Linked DNA regions of Homo sapiens. The protein of the gene in region 1 interacts with the protein of each later gene in a pairwise test. Each region holds a gene or a part of one and is shown in the gene's direction. Other genes may lie near its edges. The genes, in order: MAP2K5 and TERT.

What was found.
Region 2: the proteins of MAP2K5 (region 1) and TERT come close enough for resonance energy transfer, tested with the Homo sapiens proteins (one large-scale study listed by BioGRID).

The regions. Positions count from the first base shown.
Region 1 is NC_000015.10:67,580,461-67,584,268, forward strand, and holds part of MAP2K5 (dual specificity mitogen-activated protein kinase kinase 5), read left to right. Parts: intron 1-293; coding exon 294-363; intron 364-3,808. UniProt on the Homo sapiens protein: Acts as a scaffold for the formation of a ternary MAP3K2/MAP3K3-MAP3K5-MAPK7 signaling complex.
Region 2 is NC_000005.10:1,288,461-1,292,268, reverse strand, and holds part of TERT (telomerase reverse transcriptase), read left to right. Parts: intron 1-3,808. UniProt on the Homo sapiens protein: Telomerase is a ribonucleoprotein enzyme essential for the replication of chromosome termini in most eukaryotes. Active in progenitor and cancer cells. Inactive, or very low activity, in normal somatic cells.

The DNA.
Region 1 (3,808 bases):
TATGTGTCGTCTAAATATATATCATTTTCAAATATTTCTTAAATACTAATATAAAGTCTTAATCAACACTTTTACTCTTAAAGATAAATGCCAGGGTGAAGGCTAACACACTGGACTTTCAATCCTAAATATTCACTATAGTCATTTTGATGTGCCAGTAGGGGAAAAGTATTCTCAAGGCTGATATGTATATACCAGCAATTTACAAAAGTACTGTGAATTAAACAACCCATAAGTGTCTGTTCCAGTATTCATACATTACTGAGTGATCTCTTTCTATAATCTCTTTGCAGTATTATTCCACAGTAATGGAACAGCAAGTAAATGGACAGTTAATAGAGCCTCTGCAGATATTTCCAAGAGGTAATGTTGAGCAAATTCTAATCAACAATGATTATTTCAGTAAACTGTTTCATCAACAGTTATGTTTCCAAAGGTTTAAATGCACATAACATGATGTTTAGCTCTTAATTCGAAAAACAAAAGAAGTATTCATTATCGTGGGGATTGCAGGCTATATTATAGTTATGGCAGATAAAATATCTAATTTACTAGAGTAAATTAAACTAACTAGATTGTTTTTTGTTTTTGAAGTACATACTTACATTAGCTTAAAGAACTCTTTTGGGGGTCCACATGGTTTCTAAAGCAAGGCAAATGAATGACTTTAATTCTGGATATTTATAAATTGTGGCTCATGATGGTGGCCAAAGCTGCTATTGAGGAGAAAGCTTTCAGTTAGCACAGAAGCGAAGATTTACTGAGGTGTTAGGAGAGAAATTTTGGTGGAATGTTTGGTATCTGGTTTTTTGAGGAGGTATTTTCTAAATAATTGAAATTCTTCATAAATGGAAATTTGATTATCTCCAAAAATATGAGCTGATGAGAGTAAGTTTCAGTGAATCACTTGGTCAGATAATTTTCTTTTTCCCTTTTAGGTTTGGCAGTACTATCCTTGTATCAGATATGATTGTTCAACCGTGTATAAATGTTCCCTCAAAATTTGAATAATGGTGAACAAGAACAGTTTAATTATATAAACCATTAAGTCTTTCACCCGTTATACATTGCCCCACTTGGAATCCATGTTTTCTAACTAATGGAACAGATAAGGAAATTCTCTAAGTAACCCTTCTAGAAATAACTTAATTGAAATAATTAAAAGTTAAACTTACCTTCGTTAACTGATACTGTACAAATAATCATGGTATGAGTTTTCCAATTAAACATTCTAGACTTTCATTACCTGTAACTCTCTGAAGTTTGAATGGCTCAATTAACCAGTAGGCTCCTATTTGCACTGATAAAGTCTCCAAAGGCAGCTGTCTTGGCCAACCCACAAGAAGATCTGGGTTCAAGAATAATACTGCTCTTCCAGCATATGTGTGGGCAGCAGAATCAGGAGTGCTTAGTATATTACTAGTAACTTATTGAAGTGCTAAGTAAGTACAGTTGGGCTATTTAAGGCCAGTGATAGTCCAAAACAAGGATTGTGATTAATCCACTTCTGTTGTACTTGAAGATTAAGCACCAAAACAGAAAAAAAGAAATGTTGCTATTTCTGTTTATTAGTCCAATGATTAGGATGTAGATGATTTCTTTTTTTTTTTTTTTTTTTTCGAGACAGAGTCTCGCTCTGCCACCAGGCTGGAGTGCAGTGGTGCAATCTCAGCTCACCGCAACCTCTGACTCCCTGGTTCAAGTGATTCTCCTGCCTCAGCCTCCTGAGTAGCTGGGATTACAGGCTCGTGTCACCACACCCAGCTAATTTTTGTATTTTTAGCAGAGACAGGGTTTTACCATGTTGGCCAGGATGGTCTTGATCTCCTGACCTCATGATCCACTCCCCTCGGCCTCCCAAAGTGCTGGGATTACAGGCGTGAGCCACCACGCCCAGCCAGGAGGCAGATTATTTCTTAATGTTTGCAGTGACTGGAGAATTTGGGCAAGTTTCAAAATTCTTTCTTCACAAGGAGTAGTATTTTACAAACTGAAAATTTCCATTAATTTCTCTATTGACATTATAGCTCTGCCATAGAAAACCCTAATTGCAGTATCCTGGAGAAATATACTTCCAGGCAGGGCACAGTGGTTCATGCCTGTAATCTCAGCACTTTGGGAAGCTGAGGCAGGTGGATTGCTTGAGCTCAAGAGTTTGAGACCAGCTTGGGCAACATGTCAAAACCCTGTCTCTACCAAAAAAATACAAAAATTAGCCGGGCGTGGTGCACACTCCTGTTGTCCCAGCTACTTGGTGGGCTGAGGTGGGAGGATGGCTTGAGCCCAAGAGGTTGAGGCTACAGTGAGCCATGTTTGTGCCACTGTACTCCAGCCTGAGTGACAGAGCAATACATTGTCTCAAAACACACACACACACACACACACACACACACACTTCCAATGTTGTGGGTCTTCATTTGTCTCTAAAAAATTTTTTTTAGTTATCTTCATCCAAATTCTTTCAAGTTTTGTTTGTTTTCTTTCCTTTTGTGAGCAGTCCTGTCATTCTCACTGTTCATCGCATTATGCTTCTTCCCATGATAATCACAACCATTTTTAGATGTCTGCTCTGTTAAGGCATTAATATTGCTTTACGCATCATCATCTGTAATCCTCCTGATAGTTCTGCCTATTAGGTATTACTGTTTCCAATTTATAGATGAGAATATTGAGATTCAGAGAGGTTAAGTAACTTCAGAGTCACACAGCTTATAAGTGCTTACTATGCCCTTTGAGTAAGAATTTCATTTAAATTATAATATGATTAAAATGGAAAGGCATATATATTAAAATATAATTAGAGTGTGCATGGGAGTAGTTTGGAGGGCTTGTTTTGGAGTGGAGAGGAGTATGTTATGGGGAGAGGATACTTAAAGGAGGAAATTATATGAGATGTCATTGTCATATGTAGTCTTAGCATAAAACCCACTAGGCTGCAATAAATTGTTAAACATAGTCTTTCTAAGCCAAATTTAAATATTTCAGAATATGAGACTGTCTTTTTATTTCTGTGTTTTTTTAATATGCTATGGTGTAATTGTTTCTAGTTTTTGGTAGTCTTTTGCTTTTTGCTACCTGTCTACATCGAATGTACATTTTATCATATGTAGATAAGTGAAATTATGCAAATTTACATAATCGACATGTAGACATACTGGGTATATTTCCTGTGTCTACCTAGTTGGTTAGAGGCCCTCAGATCTTAAATTTTATGGTTAGGCCCCATGTTAAAAAGAATCTTTAGACTGAACAAGTAGGAAGGATAGGAGAAAATGATTGTTTCCTTATTTATTTATTTATTTATTTATTTTGGAGACAGAGTCTCACTCTATCACCCAGGCTGGAGTGCAGTGTGTGCTCACTGCAGCCTTTATGTCCCCAGGCTGGAGCAGTTCTCTCGCCTCAGCTCCTGAGTAGCTGGGGCTACAGGCATGTGCCACCACGCTGGGCATTTTTTTTTAATTTTTTAATAGCGACAAGGTATCACAGTGTTGCCCAGGCTGGTGTCAAACTCCTGAGCTCAAGCAATCCTCCCACCACCACTTCTCCAAGTGCTGGGATGAAAGGCATGAGCCACCATGCCTGGCCATAATTCTGATGTAATAACATGTTCTCCTCATTCCAAGTAGCACAGTTGCCTTGGATAGTAACTCCCAGGTCATGGCTAAGTCCTCTACATTGTTAAAAGATATGTTAAATATTAATAAGTGTGAACATTGACTAGCTTTATAGTAATTCCTGACCCGATAACTTTAGGAAATATGAGGTTACTGGGTTTTTTGACTGCTGTTTACATCTCCAGTTATAA
Region 2 (3,808 bases), on another chromosome or scaffold:
TCCCAGTGCTCCCAGGCCCTACCGTGGCAGCTAGAAGAAGTCCCGATTTCACCCCCTCCCCACAAACTCCCAAGACATGTAAGACTTCCGGCCATGCAGACAAGGAGGGTGACCTTCTTGGGGCTCTTTTTTTTCTTTTTTTCTTTTTATGGTGGCAAAAGTCATATAACATGAGATTGGCACTCCTAACACCGTTTTCTGTGTACAGTGCAGAATTGCTAACTCGGCGGTGTTTACAGCAGGTTGCTTGAAATGCTGCGTCTTGCGTGACTGGAAGTCCCTACCCATCGAACGGCAGCTGCCTCACACCTGCTGCGGCTCAGGTGGACCACGCCGAGTCAGATAAGCGTCATGCAACCCAGTTTTGCTTTTTGTGCTCCAGCTTCCTTCGTTGAGGAGAGTTTGAGTTCTCTGATCAGGACTCTGCCTGTCATTGCTGTTCTCTGACTTCAGATGAGGTCACAATCTGCCCCTGGCTTATGCAGGGAGTGAGGCGTGGTCCCCGGGTGTCCCTGTCACGTGCAGGGTGAGTGAGGCGTTGCCCCCAGGTGTCCCTGTCACGTGTAGGGTGAGTGAGGCGCGGCCCCCGGGTGTCCCTGTCCCGTGCAGCGTGATTGAGGTGTGGCCCCCGGGTGTCCCTGTCCCGTGCAGGGTGAGTGAGGCACTGTCCCCGGGTGTCCCTGTCACGTGCAGGGTGAGTGAGGCGCGGTCCCCGGGTGTCCCTGTCACGTGTAGGGTGAGTGAGGCACTGTCCCCGGGTGTCCCTCTCAGGTGTAGGGTGAGTGAGGCGCCGTCCCCGGGTGTCCCTGTCACGTGTAGGGTGAGTGAGGCGTGGTCCCCGGGTGTCCCTGTCCCGTGCAGGGTGAGTGAGGCGCTGTCCCCGGGTGTCCCTGTCACGTGCAGGGTGAGTGAGGCGCGGTCCCCGGGTGTCCCTGTCACGTGTAGGGTGAGTGAGGCACCGTCCCTGGGTGTCCCTCCCAGGTGTAGGGTGAGTGAGGCGCTGTCCCCGGGTGTCCCTCTCAGGTGTAGGGTGAGTGAGGCGCGGCCCCAGGTGTCCCTGTCACGTGTAGGGTGAGTGAGGCACCGTCCCTGGGTGTCCCTCCCAGGTATAGGGTGAGTGAGGCACTGTCCCCGGGTGTCCCTGTCACGTGCAGGGTGAGTGAGGCGCGGTCCCCAGGTGTCCCTGTCACGTGTAGGGTGAGTGAGGCACTGTCCCCGGGTGTCCCTGTCCCGTGCAGGGTGAGTGAGGCGCGGTCCCCAGGTGTCCCTGTCCCGTGCAGGGTGAGTGAGGCGCCGTCCCCGGGTGTCCCTGTCACGTGCAGGGTGAGTGAGGCACGGCCCCCGGGTGTCCCTGTCACGTGCAGGGTGAGTGAGGCGCGGCCCCCGGGTGTCCCTGTCACGTGCAGGGTGAGTGAGGCGCGGCCCCCGGGTGTCCCTGTCACGTGCAGGGTGAGTGAGGCGCGGTCCCCGGGTGTCCCTGTCACGTGCAGGGTGAGTGAGGCGCGGTCCCCGGGTGTCCCTGTCACGTGCAGGGTGAGTGAGGCGCGGTCCCCGGGTGTCCCTGTCACGTGCAGGGTGAGTGAGGCACGGTCCCCGGGTGTCCCTGTCCCGTGTAGGGTGAGTGAGGCACTGTCCCCGGGTGTCCCTGTCACGTTCAGGGTGAGTGAGGCGCGGTCCCCGGGTGTCCCTGTCACGTGTAGGGTGAGTGAGGCACCGTCCCCGGGTGTCCCTGTCACGTGCAGGGTGAGTGAGGCGCTGTCCCCGGGTGTCCCTGTCACGTGCAGGGTGATTGACGCGAGGCCCCCGGGTGTCCCTGTCACGTGCAGGGTGAGTGAGGCGCCGTCCCCGCGTGTCCCTGTCACGTGCAGGGTGAGTGAGGCGCCGTCCCCGGGTGTCCCTGTCACGTGTAGGGTGAGTGAGGTGCCGTCCCCGGGTGTCCCTGTCACGTGTAGGGTGAGTGAGGCGCCGTCCCCGGGTGTCCCTGTCACGTTCAGGGTGAGTGAGGCACGGCCCCCGGGTGTCCCTGTCACGTGTAGGGTGAGTGAGGCGCGGTCCCCGGGTGTCACTGTCACGTGTAGGGTGAGTGAGGCACTGTCCCCGGGTGTCCCTGTCACGTGTAGGGTGAGTGAGGCGCGGCCCCCGGGTGTCCCTGTCACGTGCAGGGTGAGTGAGGCGCGGCCCCCGGGTGTCCCTGTCACGTGTAGGGTGAGTGAGGCGCGGCCCCCGGGTGTCCCTGTCACGTGCAGGGTGAGTGAGGCGCGGCCCCCGGGTGTCCCTGTCACGTGCAGGGTGAGTGAGGCGCGGCCCCCGGGTGTCCCTGTCACGTGCAGGGTGAGTGAGGCACGGCCCCCGGGTGTCCCTGTCACGTGCAGGGTGAGTGAGGCGCGGCCCCCGGGTGTCCCTGTCACTTGCAGGGTGAGTGAGGCACTGTCCCCGGGTGTCCCTGTCACGTTCAGGGTGAGTGAGGCGCGGTCCCCGGGTGTCCCTGTCACGTGTAGGGTGAATGAGGCACTGTCCCCGGGTGTCCCTGTCACGTGCAGGGTGAGTGAGGCGCCGTCCCCGGGTGTCCCTGTCACGTGCAGGGTGATTGACGCGAGGCCCCCGGGTGTCCCTGTCACGTGCAGGGTGAGTGAGGCGCCGTCCCCGCGTGTCCCTGTCACGTGCAGGGTGAGTGAGGCGCCGTCCCCGGGTGTCCCTGTCACGTGTAGGGTGAGTGAGGCGCCGTCCCCGGGTGTCCCTGTCACGTGTAGGGTGAGTGAGGCGCCGTCCCCGGGTGTCCCTGTCACGTGTAGGGTGAGTGAGGCGCCGTCCCCGGGTGTCCCTGTCACGTGTAGGGTGAGTGAGGCGCCGTCCCCGGGTGTCCCTGTCACGTGCAGGGTGAGTGAGGCCCCGTCCCCGGGTGTCCCTGTCACGTGTAGGGTGAGTGAGGCACTGTCCCCGGGTGTCTCTGTCACGTGTAGGGTGAGTGAGGCGCCGTCCCTGGGTGTCCCTCTCAGGTGTAGGGTGAGTGAGGCGCCATCCCCGGGTGTCCCTGTCACGTGTAGGGTGAGTGAGGCGCCGTCCCCGGGTGTCCCTGTCACGTGTAGGGTGAGTGAGTTGCGGCCCCCGGGTGTCCCTCTCAGGTGCAGGGTGAGTGAGGCGCTGTCCCTGGGTGTCCCTGTCTCGTGTAGGGTGAGTGAGGCTCTGTCCCCAGGTGTCCTTGGCGTTTGCTCACTTGAGCTTGCTCCTGAATGTTTGCTCTTTCTATAGCCACAGCTGCGCCGGTTGCCCATTGCCTGGGTAGATGGTGCAGGCGCAGTGCTGGTCCCCAAGCCTATCTTTTCTGATGCTCGGCTCTTCTTGGTCACCTCTCCGTTCCATTTTGCTACGGGGACACGGGACTGCAGGCTCTCGCCTCCCGCGTGCCAGGCACTGCAGCCACAGCTTCAGGTCCGCTTGCCTCTGTTGGGCCTGGCTTGCTCACCACGTGCCCGCCACATGCATGCTGCCAATACTCCTCTCCCAGCTTGTCTCATGCCGAGGCTGGACTCTGGGCTGCCTGTGTCTGCTGCCACGTGTTGCTGGAGACATCCCAGAAAGGGTTCTCTGTGCCCTGAAGGAAAGCAAGTCACCCCAGCCCCCTCACTTGTCCTGTTTTCTCCCAAGCTGCCCCTCTGCTTGGCCCCCTTGGGTGGGTGGCAACGCTTGTCACCTTATTCTGGGCACCTGCCGCTCATTGCTTAGGCTGGGCTCTGCCTCCAGTCGCCCCCTCACATGGATTGACGTCCAGCCACAGGTTGGAGTGTCTCTGTCTGTCTCCTGCTCTGAG